Linked DNA regions of Homo sapiens: region 1 is linked to region 2. Evidence: fine-mapped expression QTL. Tissue or cell type: whole blood. Region 2 holds a variant in brackets; the other region holds the start of a gene. All regions are shown on one strand. Distances are from middle to middle.

Evidence for each region. PIP is the estimated chance that this variant, and not a neighbour inherited with it, causes the effect.
Region 1: KLF11 starts here. The variant in region 2 is fine-mapped to the expression of KLF11 in whole blood (TOPMed, PIP above 0.99). The same link has a PIP of 0.9 or more in blood mononuclear cells.

The regions. Positions count from the first base shown.
Region 1 is chr2:10,039,913-10,048,088 of GRCh38, forward strand. It overlaps KLF11 (KLF transcription factor 11), which reads left to right and starts at 3,638. Exons shown (of 4, transcript NM_003597.5): 1 at 3,638-3,846; 2 at 6,238-6,507; 3 at 7,738-8,176. The coding sequence starts at 3,805. It overlaps KLF11-DT (KLF11 divergent transcript), which reads right to left and starts at 3,489. Exons shown (of 3, transcript NR_135558.1): 1 at 3,398-3,489; 2 at 2,721-3,092; 3 at 1,641-1,739. RefSeq lists a promoter at 2,896-3,795, silencers at 3,482-3,711, 4,002-4,051, 4,172-4,221, 4,262-4,331 and an enhancer at 5,555-6,294.
Region 2 is chr2:10,015,580-10,023,755 of GRCh38, forward strand. No RefSeq gene overlaps it. Among named protein-coding and RNA genes, the nearest start is that of KLF11-DT, 24 kb to the right of the region's middle. RefSeq lists an enhancer at 1-413. The variant C/T (reference allele first, on the strand shown) is at 4,376.

The DNA.
Region 1 (8,176 bases), 24 kb after region 2:
CCAAGTGAATGATTCGCAATAGTCTGTAGCTTACAAATTGCCATCCCTCTGACTGCGGGCAGGGCCAGATTCAGGGGTTTGGCGACGACCACAGACTGTCTGTCCATCTGGAAGATGGGCTAGATGTGCGCAGAACAGGGGCTCATGGCTGAAGAGGGCACAGTTCCCACATGCGCCTGCTGTCCAAGGAGCAGAAACAGACCCTGGGGCAAGAGAAGCCAGAGTGCCAGTTCAGGGAGAGCTGCTGCCGCCTTCTGTCCTGCAGGAAAGAAGACTTGGCAAGGTCACACCGGCAAAACAAGGATTTGTATGCAGGTCTGACTCCAAAGCCCGGGCATGCTGCCTTCTGCAGAGGCCAATCAGGGAGGGCTTCACTGGGGAGTCATATGCAGTCTTTTTTTCTTTTTTTTTTTCTTTTTTGAGACGGAGTTTCACTCTTGTAGCCCAGGCTGGAGTGCAATGGCATGACCTCGGCTCACTGCAACCTCTGCTTCCTGGGTTCAAGCGATTCTCCTGCCTCAGCCTCCCGAGTAGCTAGGATTACTGGCTGATTTTTTGTATTTTTAGTAGAGACGGGGTTTCACCATGCTGGCCAGGCTGGCCTCAAACTCCTGACCTCAGGTGATCTGTCTGCCTCGGCCTCTTGAAGTGCTGGGATTACAGGCGTGAGCCACCGCGCCCGGCGGTCTCATGCAGTTTTGCAAAGTCAAAGCAGACGAGGGTTGGCATGTTCCACGCAGAAGGAATGCTGTCTAGAAACAGAAGAGAGTGGCGTGACCTTGAGAGTACAGGGTTCTGTATTGGGTCAGTGGGGGCAGGAAGGCAGCAGGGAAAGCAATTTGGGAAACTGGTCAGAAATGATGCAGGAAGTGCTGGCTGGAGCCTGGCTACAAAGACTCATGGGTTCCTGGCCATGGAGCCTGAAGTCAGTCCTATAACTGTTTGGATTCCAACTGACGGCTTGAATACAGGTTCAGCTCCACCTCTGCTTCCAGAAGATCATTCTGGCAGTGAGGTGAGGGCAGATTGTAGGGCGTCTGGCTGGAGGGAGGGAGACCTGTTGGGAGGCAGTGGCAACAATTCAGGTGAGCAGGTGGTGGCCAGGACAAGGGCTGGCGTGGGTGACATAAGAGTTTGAGAGGAACTGAGAAGGAAGAAGGGCATGTAATTGGCGGAAGACAGCAACTGTGCGAAAGGGAGGAGGTAAAGGTGACGCTCAGGTTTCTAGATCAAGGAACAGGGTCTCCAGTTGTACCCTTCACGGAGGTGAGAAATCCAGATTTGGCTGGAATCCGAGTTCAGTTTTTTGTTTGTTTTTTTGAGACTGAGTCTCTGACGCCCAGGCTGGAGTGCAGTGGTGCGATCTCGGCTCACTGCAATCTCTGCCTCCTGGGTTCAAGCGATTCTCCTGCCTTAGTCTCCTGAGTAGCTGGGATTACAGGCGCCTGCCACCGTGCCAGGCTAATTTTTGTATTTTTAGAAGAGACGGGGTTTCATCATGTTGGCCGGGCTGGTCTTCAACTCCTGACCTCAGGTGATCCGCCCGCCTCGGCCTCCCAAAGTGCTGGGATTACAGGCGTGAGCCACCGCGCCCGGCCCTGAGTTCAGTTTTTTTAAGGACACAATTAGAGGTGCTCACGGGATGTTCAAGCAGGGAGGCTGGTGGATACCTTCGATTCGCTCGTTCACCTACGTGGACTTATTAAACAGCCAGGCTCCCTGGCCTTGGGAGAGTCCTTCTGGTGGGGAGACAGATGATAAATAACTGAAGTAATGGAAAAGGGGCAGTTCAAGAAAAGTGTTGTGGAGGAAGAAAACAAGAAAGCCCGCCAGAAGGGGACTGGAGGTCGGCCCCGAGGGTGTGTCCGCTAGAGGGGGCCTCTCCAGGTGGACTGCGGGTGAGAGTAAAGGGGGCATGTGGGGGAAAAGCATTCTAGGGAACAGCAAGTGCGAGGACCTGGAGACGGCAGAGGGGCTGGTGGGACAGGCGCCCAAGAGGAGGCCCAGGCTGTCCCTCCGGGGCGTGGGGAGAGGCATGGGGCTGGGTCCCTGCAGGAGCTCACAAGCCACAGTGGGGAGCAGAAGCGTTACGCTGAGTACAGTGGGAGCCACTGAAAGGGTTAAAGACCCCTGGGGGTGCTGAGTGGGAAGAGGCTCTGGGAGCTGGAGTGGACGCAGGGAGACCAGTTATAAGGCGAATGCAGGAGTCCAGGCAAAAGAGAATATTCCAGTGTGTATCTTAAGACTTAACTTTTTACACACAGAACACCCTGCGCCCCTCTCAGAGCCTCCGGGGTCTTCATGCGAGCAGTTTATCACGGTTCTTTCGTCTTAAACCCTCTTACTATTTCAGCAAACACCCTCTCCTCAGCCTGGTCAACCCCTCTGCCCAACCCGAGTGGGCCCCGAAGGAACAAGTGGGGACCAGAGTCCTGCTCATGTGAGTGGTGGGGCCCAGCCCGTTCCCCTAAGACCAGAATTCTCTCGCTCAGAGCAAAGCCCCGGGGTGCCGGGATTCTCTCTCTGCTCCCGCTCCCTGGATGGAGCTTTTAAAAAAGGAGGATTCCTCACTGCGGCCTCTGCCCCTTGCACTGAGCGCCAACCCGCATCACAGCTCAGCAAAGGCGCGCGCAGTGAACAGACGGAGGAGGGGTGGCTCCTCGCTGAGCTGAAGGCTGCGGCGACGAAAATAAACAGCATGGTTCCTGCTCTCCACGAACCTGGCGCTGCAGACGTGGGCAAACCACACCAAGAGACGCGAGCAACCGAAATATAGGGAGAAAAAAAAAGGTGCCCTGGACAGCGGGCTAGATGTCTCCTGCAGGCTCGAGGACTTCCCGGAGGGGGCGGCGTTTTCTCGGGGCCTGGGAAGAATGGGCGGGTTTCAGCGGGCGCCTTCTGGGTGACTGCCCGTTTCGGCTTCCCCTGACCCCGTAACAGAGCGGAAGAGGCCCAGAGACGCCAGAGGAGGGGCGTCAGCGGGACACTCAGGCCAATAAGCTCTGACTCCCGCTGTCTGCAAAAATGACCGGATGCAGGAATGTCACCTAGAACCGGCCAGCTTTCCGACCTCTCCGGTCAAGGACGCATTCCTAAGAGACGAAGGGAGAATGACAGAAGTTAAAAACAACCAAACAAAAGCCAGGTTGAGGCCTCTAGGTGGGTCTCCGCTACCGATGGATTCAGCCGGTGGGGCTGCAGGAGGTTCCTATAAGCGTGGTCCCCTCTCCCCGCACCGAGTCCGGCCCCGGCCCTGGGATTTCCCCAGCCGCCGCCCCGCCCCCTCCGCCCCGCCGCCCCCGCCGCCCCGCCGCCCCCTCCGCCCCCGCCGCCCCCTCCGCCCCCGCCGCCCCCTCCGCCCCGCTTGCCCCTGGCGCCGCTGCGACCTTTCCCTTACTTTCCAGGGCCTCAGGCCCCGCCCCTCGCTCCGACCAAAACACGTGCCGCGTCCCGCCCTGCCCGATCACGCCGCGGCCAGGCTCCGATCACGCGGCCCCCCGCGGCGCTCATTGGCCGGCCGGGCACGAATTGGCTGGTGGTGGCCGGCCCCGCCCCGGCAGGGGCGCGGTGTATTTTGGTTCGCCTCCGCGCCCCGCCCCGCCAGCCGCTCCCTCCGCGGCCGCCCCGCCCCTCCCGCGCCGCGAGGGCCGCGCCGGGGCAGAGCCGCGCGGGCGGGCGAGGCGCGTGCCGGCCGCAGGAGCTCCGGGTTGCCGCCGCCGCCGCCGCCCGCAGCCCACGTGCGGCCGCTGCTGCGCCCGAGCTCACGCCCCGCGGCCGCTTTGTTGCTCCCGGCCGGCCTGCACGATGCACACGCCGGACTTCGCAGGCCCAGACGACGCGCGCGCAGTGAGTGGTGGGGCTGCCGCGGCGGGACTACTCGTCTGAGCGAGGGGCGAGGCGGGGGAAGTGGTGCGGCACTCGCGCGCCTGTAAATGCGGGAGGTGGGGCGTGCAGGGCTTCGCTGCGGCCGCGCCGGTAGGGGCCTGGGCGGGCTCCGGAGCCGGGCGGGGCGGCGGCCGCGACGGGCGCGCCCGGGTCGGCGGGGGCGAGGAGGGGGCGTGTTCCCCGCGCAGCTTTGTCTTGCGCTTCCTGGGCGGCCCCGCCCCGCTGGCCCCGCGGCTATTTCCAGCCATGACGTCACCCCGGTCCTGTGAGCCGGACGGCCGTTGGGCGGGGGAGCGGCTGGCGGGAACGCGGCACGCGGCCTTGGGGGCGGGGCAAGAGCTGCTGGCGGGAACGCGGCACGGTTTTGGGGGCGGGGCACGCGGCCGTCGGGCGGGTTAAGAGCGGCTAGCGGTAGTGCCGCTCGGGCCTGGGGGCGGGCAAGGTCTAGGGGCCGGGGCAACGACGGGAGGCGGGAGCGCCGCACTGCCTTGGAGGCGGGGCAACGCTTGGAGGCGGGAACGCGGCACGCGAGCGTTGGGGGCCCTAAGCGTCGCGACCTGGGGGCTTCGGGGAGGTAGCCGTGGACGTGGGCAGAGCGCGGGCCTCGTGGTGTGCGGGCACTGTGGGCCGGGCGAGCCCCTTCCCGCCCGTGTGGTGAGTCGGCCTCGGCGCCCGGTTCTGTGACATCACAGGGGGTTTAGTGGCGCAGCCTGCGGGACAGAGGCCGGGGATTTGAGGTGGCCTCGTCTTGTTTGATCTCGGGGAACCTCGGCAGACGGAAAGCTTTGATGCTTTGGTGCATGGCAGATAGAGAGGAAACGTGTATCTTCGTACATTTAAAGTTTCCTTTCCTTTTTTTTTTTTTTGATAGGGAGTCTCGCTCTATCGCCCAGGCCGGAGTGCAGTGGGCGCGCGATCTCGGCCCACTGTAACCTCCCTGGGAGGGAGGGGTATTACTCTTCTCAGAGTAATATCACCCTCTCGCCCCCGGCTTAGTTTTCTTTTGGAAGAGATCAGCTCATTCCAGCCTCTTCCCTCCTCCCCTCCAGATTAAAGAGACGGTGAGGGTCTGGTGCGGTGGCTCACGTCTGTAATCCCAGCACTCTGGGAGACCGAGGTGGGCGGATCACCTGAGGCCGGGCTTTCGAGACCAGCTTGACCAACATGGGGAAAACCGCTCTCTACTAAAAATACAAAAATCAGCTGAGCATGGTGGTGGGCGCCTGTAATCCCAGCTACTGGGGAGGCTGAGGCAGGAGAGTCGCTTGAACCTGGGAGGCAGAAGTTGTGGTGAGCCGAGATGGTGCCACTGCACTCCAGCCTGGGCAACAGAGCAAGACTCTGTCTCAAAAAAACAAGGCCGGGCGCCTGTAATCCCAGCACTTGGGGAGGTCAAGGCGGGTGGATCGCCTGAGGTCAGGAGTTGGAGACCAGCCTGGCCAACATGGTGAAACCCCGTCTCTACTAAAAATACGAAATTTTCTGGGCGTGGTGGCGGACGCCTCCCAGCTACTCTGGAGGCTGAGGCAGGAGAATCGCTTGAACCCGGGAGGTCAGTTCAAGGCCAGCTTGACCAACATAGCAAAACTCTCTTTCTACTAAAAATACAAAAATTACCCAAGTGTGGTGGCGGGCACTGCAGTGAGCCGAGATTGTGCCACTGCACTCCAGCCTGGGCAACTGAGACTCCATCTCAAAAAGAAAAAAAAAACTGCAAAGAGATCCTCTCCGGGTTCGCGGCAGGTTGGCTTCTTGTCACCACCTGCTAGCCTTGGGACAGTAACAGATGACTTCCACTCCCGAATCTGTGGAGGGAACTGGTGGAATCGCCATGGGCCCTACCTGCGTGGAGTGCTGGAAGCCTAGGCGGAAGGCCCCAGAGTCCCTGAGAGCATCTGTAGGGACACTGCTTTGGCGGCTTTGCCGCCTCAGAGAGCCATGGTCAGGGCGCCGCGGCCACTGGCAGACCGACTAGATGGCCTCAGTGTTGGCTCCTCCTCCCTGGGCAGCTGCTCCTCCTCCCAGCCACTTTTTGGCTTGAACCTCAGGAGTTAATTTTATTAATCATTTACCCAAGAAAAATATGAACTTAGTAGCCCTTTTTAAGAGTCAGGATTTTTGGTGGCAACGCTTGCCAGCTTAGTTCTGTCTGTGAAATGTTGGCTTAAAAGCCGAATTGTCATGAGCATTCCTTGAATGTCTTTTACTACACCTCGGTGTTTGTTGCTATAGACTATTGCATGTGCATTACATGCCTACTGTAGGCTTCTGATATGCATATCCACATGCCCATCATGGGTGGCCTCTGTATTTCCCCTGCACTGAGAAGCCGTTGTGTTGTGTCGCCTTTAGGTTGACATCATGGACATATGTGAGTCCATCCTGGAGAGGAAGCGGCATGACAGCGAAAGGTCTACTTGCAGCATCTTGGAGCAGACAGACATGGAAGCTGTCGAGGCTCTTGTTTGTATGAGCTCCTGGGGTCAAAGATCCCAGAAAGGTGACCTGTTGCGGATAAGACCCCTCACGCCTGTCTCTGACTCTGGGGATGTCACCACCACTGTGCATATGGATGCAGCCACACCTGAACTACCAAAAGACTTCCATTCTTTATCGACTCTGGTAAGAGGAGGTGGGAGGGAGGAGCGTTTTTGTGAAATGACTAGAGTAGCTGAACTCAGTGTGTTGAAGAACTTGTGAGAAGATTCCCTGGGATGCTGGCAAATAAGTTGCGTATCCTCTCTGTGTGGGTCTGAAGGAGTAGAAACTCTTCCTTTGGCCAGGCATGGTGGCTCAAGCCTGTAATCCCAGCACTTTGGGAGGGCCAGGCAGGCAGATCACAAGGTCAGGAGTTCGAGACCAGCCAGACCAACATGGTGAAACCTCATCTCTACTAAAAGTACAAAATTTATCCGGGTGTGGTGGCGGGCGCCTGTAGTCCCAGCTATTCAGGAGTCTGAGGTAGGAGAATCGCTTGAACCCGGGAGGCGGAGGTTGCAGTGAGCCGAGATCGTGCCACTGCACTCCAGCCTGGGCAACAGAGCGCGAGACCCCATCTCAAAAAAAAATAAAAGAACAAAAAAAGAAACTTTTCTTTCATTTCTGAAAAATGTGCTCTTTCTATGGATGGATCATACCTTGCTAGCTACGTGGTTAATGTCCGTGGGATGAAACCTACAGATTAATGTGAGAAAGTGAAATTTACTTCCCCAGGGGAATCTCGGGGTGGAGCTTAGGTTCTCCAGCCTAGTGTCAGAATATATCGGTAGCAGCTGGAGAAAGCATGTACTTTGACATCAGATTGCCTTCGTTGGGTGGCACCTCTGCCCTCCCGTGGCAGCCGACTCCTTAATGTGAGTTCTGTGAGTTGGGTGCAGTAAGTCACTCTTGCTTTTTGTTTTTTTAATTTGCTACATCTGTGAAAGTACTTGGAAAAATTGCATCTCAGCTTGGAGAAGCTGAGAACTGTAGGTTGCTAACAGAAGTGGAAATTGTGATTGTCCTGGGCTGGAAGCTTGCTCTGAAAGAAGAGTGTAGAAAGCAGATTTGGAGAGGGATAGGAAGGGCCTGTGGGTTGTCGGGAGGGTTGCAGAAGTGGTGGGCCTGGCGGCCAGGAGCTCCTCTCAGAGTTCCCTGCACTGGGCTCTTGTGTAGGTTTGGGAGAGGTAAACACGTTGGGAATAAGCTGAGAAAGCAGAGTGCCTCATGCAGCCTTGAAACCCACTGGGATGTTGAAAACAGGGTTAACTGAGTGTCTAGATGATTCTGTGTAAAGGTATTGGGAGCATTGTGATGAATTAAATCCCTTTTAAAATTTAAAGCAACCTTTTAACATGGTACTTTTTTTTTTAGTGCATAACTCCTCCTCAGAGCCCTGATCTCGTGGAGCCATCGACAAGGACACCTGTTTCTCCCCAAGTAACAGATTCCAAAGCATGTACAGCCACGGATGTTCTCCAGTCCTCTGCCGTAGTGGCCAGAGCTCTGAGCGGGGGCGCGGAGAGGGGCTTGCTGGGTTTGGAGCCAGTGCCCAGCTCTCCCTGCAGGGCCAAGGGGACTAGCGTGATCCGACACACTGGGGAGAGCCCTGCTGCCTGCTTTCCCACCATCCAGACTCCAGATTGCCGGCTTTCTGACAGCAGAGAAGGAGAAGAGCAGCTTCTGGGACACTTTGAAACTTTGCAGGACACACACCTCACGGACAGTTTACTCAGCACTAACTTGGTGTCCTGTCAGCCCTGCTTGCACAAGTCTGGTGGCCTGCTGCTCACTGACAAAGGCCAGCAGGCAG
Region 2 (8,176 bases):
CATGCGTATGGGCGGGTCAGGTGGGCAGGCGTGCATATGGGTGGGTCAGGTGGACAGGTGTGCGTATGAGTGTGCGTATGGGCGAGTCAGGTGGGCAGACGTGCATATGGGTGTGCATATGGGTGATTCAGGTGGACAGGCGTGCGTATGGGCGGCTCACGTGGACAGGCGTGCGTGTCAGCGTGTCACGTGGACAGGCGTGTGTGTGGGCGGGTCAGGTGGGCAGGCGTGTGTATGGGCGGGTCAGGTGGGCAGGCGTGCGTATGGGCGGGTCAGGTGGGCAGGCATGCCTATGGGTGTGCGTATGGGCGAGACAGGTGGGCAGGCGTGCCTATGGGTGAGTCAGGTGGGCAGGCGTGTGTATGGGTGTGCATATGGGCGAGTCAGGTGGACAGGCATGCGTATGGGTGGGTCAGGTGGACAGACGTGCGTATGGGTGAGTCAGGTGGGCAGACGTGCGTATGGGTGGGTCAGGTGGGCAGGCGTGCGTATGGGTGAGTCAGGTGGACAGGTGTGCGTATGGGTGAGTCAGGTGGACAGGCGTGCGTATGGCTGTGCGTTTGGGCGAGTCAGGTGGGCAGACGTGCGTATGGGCAGTCAGGTGGACAGGCGTGTGTATGGGTGAGTCAGGTGGACCACTGTGTGTACGGGCGAGTCAGGTGGACCGGCGTGCATATGGGCAGGTCAGGTGGGTAGGCGTGTGTATGGATGTGCATATGGGCGGGTCAGGTGGACAGGTGTGTATATGGGTGTACATGTGTGCACAGGTGCTACTTTACTCTGTGTTCAACACGTGTTCGTGGACGTGCTCCAGGCCCAAGGCGAAGGAATAGGATGTAGCAGGGGCAGGGTCTCCGCCCCATACTCAGAGTCCTTGGGCTCCGGGAAGACACAACCGATAAGTGGTTACGGGGATGCCTGGGAGCTACGGGCACACACAGACCCTCCTGGGCCCAGCATAAGGGCCAGGGAAGACTTCCTGGAGTCCAAGTGGAAGCTGCAGGGTGAGTAGGAGGAGGGAGGGTGGGTGTCAATGTTCTAGGAGTCAGGGGCGCACAGAGTCCAGAGCAGGCACTCCAAGCATGGGATGGCTACTCTGGGGATCGCTCGAGCCGCTTGAGCATAGAGCTTATGGAGATGAGGTGGGAGGAGTGAAACCAACTTTAAATTCCCACAGCTCTGCTGGGACTGCTGGGTCCGGCCATAAGACGGTGACAGATAGCAGACTTACCTTTCCCCCATAAACAACTAGAAAACTAGACAAATTATATGAAGCAACTGTTTTTAAGCATAGGTGCCATGGCAGGGCTGTGACCCTAGAGAAGGACACACATGAGGGAGTTCCAGCTTCACCCTGGCTCTCTGCCCGGAGGTGTTTGGGGCATTTTCTGAACACAGCACAGGGAAGTAGAGCTCAGAGAGTGGTGATGGCATGGGCCGGAGCAGGCAGAGACTGGAGTTCAGGACCACCGAGGGGACTGGAACTTGTGGGGTTCCAGAGAGGAGCGGGTTGAGCAGGGAAGGAGCTTCAGACGTTTGCAGAGGAGCTCTCTTGAGTCTTTGAGTGAATACTAAACTGCACGTGCACAGGATGAGACGGCAAAGTCTGGCAGAGGAGAGCTGCTGGGAGCTGGGAGCAGAAGGGGGTGCCAGAGGATGCACGGGCACAGAGACCTTGGAGTTCTGGGCAGCCAGAGTGAAGAGACCACACCGAATATGCCAGACATTCAGCCAAGACCTCAGAAAAACCACCCTTTTTTAAAAAAGTTAGATTTATTCAGGTATCATTTACATACAGTGAAATTCTCCATTTTTAGGTGTACAACTCTATGACACATGCATACAGTCATGTAATCACCACCACAATCAAGATAGAAAACATTTCTACTGCCCAATGTTCTCTGTGCCCTTTGGTCATCCTTTCCTCCCTCCACTCCAGCCCCTGGTAACCACTGCCCTGATCTCTGTCCTTTTGAAAAGCACATGCCTCAGGTGTACTACACTAACCCTGGGGTAACGGCTGCTCTAGACCTGTCCCAACGAGCCCACAAACAAGCCTTGAGGAGCAAAACATCTACCAATAATTTAACTCATTGCCAAAACAAAATTCACTAATCTTTGAAAGAAAACAACAAAATTCAGATTCCCAACAATGTTGTATCATAATGTCCAGCATCCAATCAAAAATTATTAGACATGTAATAAAGCAAGAAAATTTGAGTCGTAACTGGAGAAAAACTAGCCCATAAGAAACCCTGTTGAAGCCGGGCATGGTGGTTCACCCTTGTAATCCCAGCACTTTGGGAGACCGAGGTGGGTGGATCACCTGATGTTAGGAGTTCAAGAACAGCCTGGCCAACATGGTAATACCCCATCTCTACTAAAAATACAAAAATCACCCGGGCATGGTGGTGTGTGCCTATAATCCCAGCTACTCGGGAGGCTGAGGCACGAGAATCGTTTGAACCAGGGAGGCGGAGGTTGCAGTGAGCTGAGATTGCGCCACTGCACTCCAGCCTGGGTGACAGAGTGACTCTCCTTCTCAAAAAAAGAAGCCCTGTTGAATTCATGGGACAAAGACAAGGTGTCTTTTGTCATTGAGTATTTTCCACTGATAGATGGTATAGCTACCACGAAAAAATATTAACATTAAAAGGAGTCTTCAAAAGTAAAAGAGAACCACGGGTATAGGAGCCAGCCAGAACCCAAGTGCACATCTAGATGGCCAATAGGTGCACAGTGTGGGCAGGCCTGGAGTTAAACACTAGGACCCAAACATGTGCACAGCCATATCACTAAGGGGTTCAGCTGGGTGAAGACACAGACATATGAGCACAGCACAGAGGGTAGATGCCACAAGAGAGGCACAAATGTCCCAGGCATCAAAGAGTGACAGATCACTTCTGCCTAGAGGAACTGTAAAAGACTTCATGAAGGAAAAATTTTTTTGAGACAGTCTCACTCTGTCACTCAGGCTGGAGTGCAGTGGTGTGATCTTGGCTCACTGCAACCTCCACCTCCCGGGTTCAAGCAAGTCTCCTGCCTTAGCCTCCCAAGTAGTTGGGACTAAAGACACATGCCATCACACCTGACTAATTTTTGTATTTTTGGTAGAGACAGGGTTTTACCATGTTGGCCAGGCTGGTCTCAAACTCCTGACCTCAGATGATCTGCCCGCCTCAACCTCCCAAAGTGCTGGGATTACAGGCATGAGCCACTGTGCCTGGCCAGCAAATTTCTTTGCACTGGGCTTTTAAAGATGATTGAGAAACAAAATAATTTTAAAATCACCTCTAAAGTCATTTATTACCCAAATGTGATCGCTGTTGGTATTCTGGTAAATTCCTTCTCTCTGAATTATCTTATTTTTTCCCAAGTGGAGCTCCATCTCCTCAATTCTGTTTTGCATTTTTCAGTTAATGTTATTTCAAAAACCATTTTATGAAAATTCTTTGTAGCAGCTATTTTTAACAGCTGTGAAATATTAACTGTCTGTGACATAATCCAATTAACTGATTCTCTGTTGTTGGGCATTTAGGTTATTTTCAAGTTCTAACTAATCCTGCAATAAGCATCTTGTTCTCCCTTGTTCTGGTTACTCTCTTAAGTTAGATTCCCAGAAATGGGATAATTGTTTCCGAAGATATTTGGGAACATCTGGGAAGTTCCTGATCTGTATTGCCAAATGACTTTTCTAGAAGGTTGTACAAATTTACATTCCCGCTACACGTACTCTCTTATGTTGTAATACATGTTTACATGCCTTTTCCCCCACAAATTATGCCCTATCCACCTTCCTGTCCCCGGTGCCTGCACAGGCAGCTGCCCAGCAGCGTCCCTTGCATCACACATGCCCATACTTGCACCATACGTGACCGTACTTTCACAGAGGAGAAGGAATATCCAGGGTCAGGGGGAACATCCCTGACAGACACTCCTGGAACCAAGACGTGGACAAGTGTGGATGGACACTTGGGTCTCTGAACTCTTTCTAGAACACCTGGCATGGAGATGAGATGGCCATCAGAGACCTGTCAGTTCTGTTTTCTCGCTTGGCGGCAGGGAAGCTGAGATCTAGGTGGGGCAAGTGGGTTCCACACGGCACAGTTCGTCCATGTCAGTGCAGTGGCTGCTTCTCGGGGTACGGCCAAGCCGGGGTCTTGCAGCCTCAGCTCCCAGCAGGACCCGCCCAGCCAGGGTCCTCAACCCTAGGCTGACATCTTGGCCTCACTGGCGTCACAGCTCAGCCCTCACCCTGCGACTCTGTGCACGTGGGGAGTGGGGAGATAAGAGCTAGAGGCAGACCTCCTAAGAGGAAGGAAAACGATGTGGACTTGGGGGAGGAAGGATCTGCCTTCCCTTTCTTCAGCGAGAG[C/T]TTCCTCTTCTCATAATACAGGGAGGACCTCAAGATGGCTGTCTCCCCCTTTAGAGATGCTGTGTCCCAGCAAAGGGGCACCTAGAACAGGAATTCTCAACCTCCCAGGACAACGGGTGGCCGCTGAGAACCCGGGAGACCTGGGGCAAGCGTCTCAGGCTTTCCTCAGCTGCTCCACCTGGAAACCGGGACGGGCAGGACCGCCTCTCGAGGCTGCTGTGAGCGTCCAGTTAGACCACGTGGGTGGGCGAGGGGCTTGTGCCTTGCCCCAAGGGGAAGCTCAACACACACCTTTATATAGGACACATTCAAGGAGGCCAAGTTCACCAGGCCACACTGCGGGGCCTATTTTTTGGGGGGGCGGGGGTGTTGGGGGACAGGGTCTCACTCTGTCACTCAAGCTGGAGTGCAGCGGTGCAATCATAGCTCACTACAGCCCCAACCTCCTGGGCTCAAGCAATCCTCCCACCTCCTGAGTAGCTGGGACTGCAGGCATGCCCCACCATGCTTGGCTAATTTTTTAATTTTTTGTAGAGACAGGCTGTCATCGCTATGTTGCCAGGCTGGTCTCAAACTCCTGGCCTCGAGTGGTCCTCCAACCTTGGCCTCCTTAAATCCTGGGATTCCAGGGATGAGCCAGCCCACCCAGCTGGAAGACTGCTGCCTTGATGGGCCCCAGTGAATCCCCTGCTATTGATGATCTTCTGTAGTTCCCTCCCACACCAGATCTGGACAGGCCTTGAGACCCATTTGGCGGATAGAATGTGGGGGAGGCCTGGCAGCTTCCTGGTCTCTGGGAAGCTGCCACGCTGTGGAGAGCTCAGGCCATCCTACTGGAGGGAAAAGCCATGCACGCAGCTGCAAGAGTGACCTTCCTCAATACCACATGCAGCAGCAGAACCACCCCAGTGACACGCACACTCGTGAGGAGGAATCAATCACCGTCATCTTAAGCCACTAAGTTTTTTTTTTTTTGAGACAGAGTCTCGCTCTGTCACCCAGGCTGGAGTGCAGTGGCGCGATCTCGGCTCACTGCAACCTCCGCCTCCTGGGTTCAAACCATTCTTCTGCCTCAGCCTCCCAGGTAGCTGGGATTACAGGCACCCACCACCACAAGCCTGGCTAATTTTTGTATTTTTGGTAGAGATGGAGTTTCACCATGTTGGCCAGGCTAGTCTCGAACTCCTGACCTCAGGCCATCCACCCGCCTCAGCTTCCCAAAGTGCTGGGATTATAGGCGTGAGCCACTGCACCCGGCTAAGCCACTAAGTTTTGAGGTGGGCTGTTACTTAGTAATGGATACCTGAACCCGGCTGGGTGCGGTGGCTCACACCTGTAATCCCAGCACTTTGGGAGGCCAAGGCAGGTGGATCATGAGGTCAGAAGATCAAGACCATCCTGGCTAACCCCGTCTCTACTAAAAAGACAGAAAATTAGCTGGGCGTGGTGGCGGACGCCTGTAGTCCCAGCTACTTGTGAGGCTGAGGCAGGAAAATGGTGTGAACCCAGGAGGCAGAGCTTGTAGTGAGCCGAGATCGTGCCACTGCAGTCCAGCCTGGGGACAGAGCGAGACTCTGTCTCAAAAAAAAAAAAAAAAAATAGATACCTGAACCTCCCTCCTCCCCAACCTCCCTCCTCCCCATCCCAGCTTTATCCTCTGGGGCTTCTCCTGTGGTGTGCAGGTAAATGTTTAACAAGCAGCTCTCGCAGGGGATTGAGGGGAGCTCATGTGAAGTGTTCGTCAACATCTGTGGTGTAAATATTCTCATCATGGCTGATTTCAAGCTACCAACATGACATGGCTGAACACGAGATTGAGAAGAAATGTGCACCATCTGTCCAGGAGCGGGCGAGCTGGATCCAGCACACCTGGATTCTCCTCCCCTGACACGTGACAACCCTGCAGAGACTTGAGATCAGCCGCTCAGATTAGGTGATCAGAAGCATTTTGTCACGGAGACACGGAGTTCTGGGCCGGCTCTTATCTTCAGGGCATCTGGTAGGGTGGAAAGCACTTCAAGTCATGCGCCAAGCCCACGTCCTATTCCCTGGGCCCATTCCCTTCCGTTGAAGTGCTGGAGGCAGAGCTCGCAGCTGAAGACCTACAGGCGGCTCTCCCTCGTGTCTGGGCATGAGCGGTCTGTGGAGGCAGCAGCCAGGCTGTGTCCAGGTAGCCCTGACGGCCACTGCACAAGAGCAGTGTCGGGTAGAGTCCGAGCACCCATCAGCTCAGCCCCAGGCTCCATCAGAGGCGGTGGAACGGGCCCTGAGGATGCCTCAGTCCTGGGCCTTAGTGGGAGGCCTTCCAGGTGAAGCCCTGGGGACCAGGTAGCCCTGCTCAGCAAGCAGCCCTGGACCCTACCTCAGCAGCCCCGGACCCCACCTCGGCCGCCGCAGGAAGCCAAGGGGATGAGGGACCAACTCGGGAAATGGTGGGTGAGGCTGGTGGCTCCTGGAAACGCCGGTCACCAGGGCGGCAGCACCGGTCCTCACCCCTCCCTGCCAGGACTTCAGCAGCTCTCAGCCCCTAAGCATGATAGTTTCTTGGGTCAACCAAATAGTCATCTAGGGGTTACTGTGAAGGTGTTCTGTAAGTATGTCACATCTGCAGTCAGCTGACTGGAGTGAAAGGCCATTACTCTCAATCATGTGGCGGGGGTAGGGGTGGGAAGCCTTGTGCAACCAGTGAAATGCCTTGAGAGCAGAGCTGGGGTTTCCCTGAGGACAGAGAGATTTTACCTGTGGACTATAGCATCGCCTACTGCCCGAGAGGCCCAGGTGCCGCCTGCCCTATGGATTTCCACCTTGCTCAGCCAGCCCCCACCTTGTCTGAGCCAATTTTTCACAATAAATCTCTCCCTCCCTCCCTTCCTTTCTCTGTCTCATCCCCTCCATGTATATGTAATATCTCTTATGTGTCTCATAGAGAGATTTATTGCAAGGAATTGGCTATACAACACACGTACATGCATATCCACGTGTAAACATGTGCACACACACATACACACACACCACACACACCACACCCCTATCCTGCAGGTTCCTTTCTCTGCTGGGACCCTGCTTGCTTCACCAGGGGTGCTGAGCCCCTGTGTCACCAGTGGAGGTCTCAGCAGCACAAGTCCCCAGGCACAGCCCCTCAGCGCCCTGCCCTCAGCCGTGGCTCCAGGGGTGAAGTAGGACCTCAGGGTGTAAAGGCCAGTGCCACGGTTCTTATGGGGTGTGCTGCGGGAACCCTTATCTTCATGATCATGTGAACTGTGCCCCCAGTCCTTTCTGTTTCCTTGAGGGAGGCCTTGGCTTCTGGAGCCCAGAGTCAGAAAGTGCCCGGACCTCCTGTGCAGGCTGCCCCACCTGGCTCTCCCTGGCTGTGGGTCCAGGACCTCCATCCTGAGTTGGGGCAGGGAGGCTTGAGACTTGGGGAGGAGAGGGGAGATGCTGGGAGCTGGAAGAGCGTGTGCCCCCAAAACCAGCTCCTGGGGCCTGTGGGCTGTGGCCCGGGAGGAAGGGCAGAAGGCTCGGGAAGGCTGGAGTGGTCCTGCAGCAGAGTTATGGGGACACCAACTGGCTGGTTTTGGGGCAGATAGATGGGACATAGGGGTGAAGTGGCAGCAAGGGGTACCTCTTTCCATCCTAACATCTCGGCGGATGCTGAGAGGGTGTGGCTTTGAATTTCAAGAGCCCTGATGGTGAGACCCCAGCAAAGGTCTCATTGGGATCGGGGTTCTAAGGCTTAGACACTCGGGCTTCTACAGACTTTGTGACCTTGGTTGCCTGGTCCCAGGGTCCCCCACCGTGAAA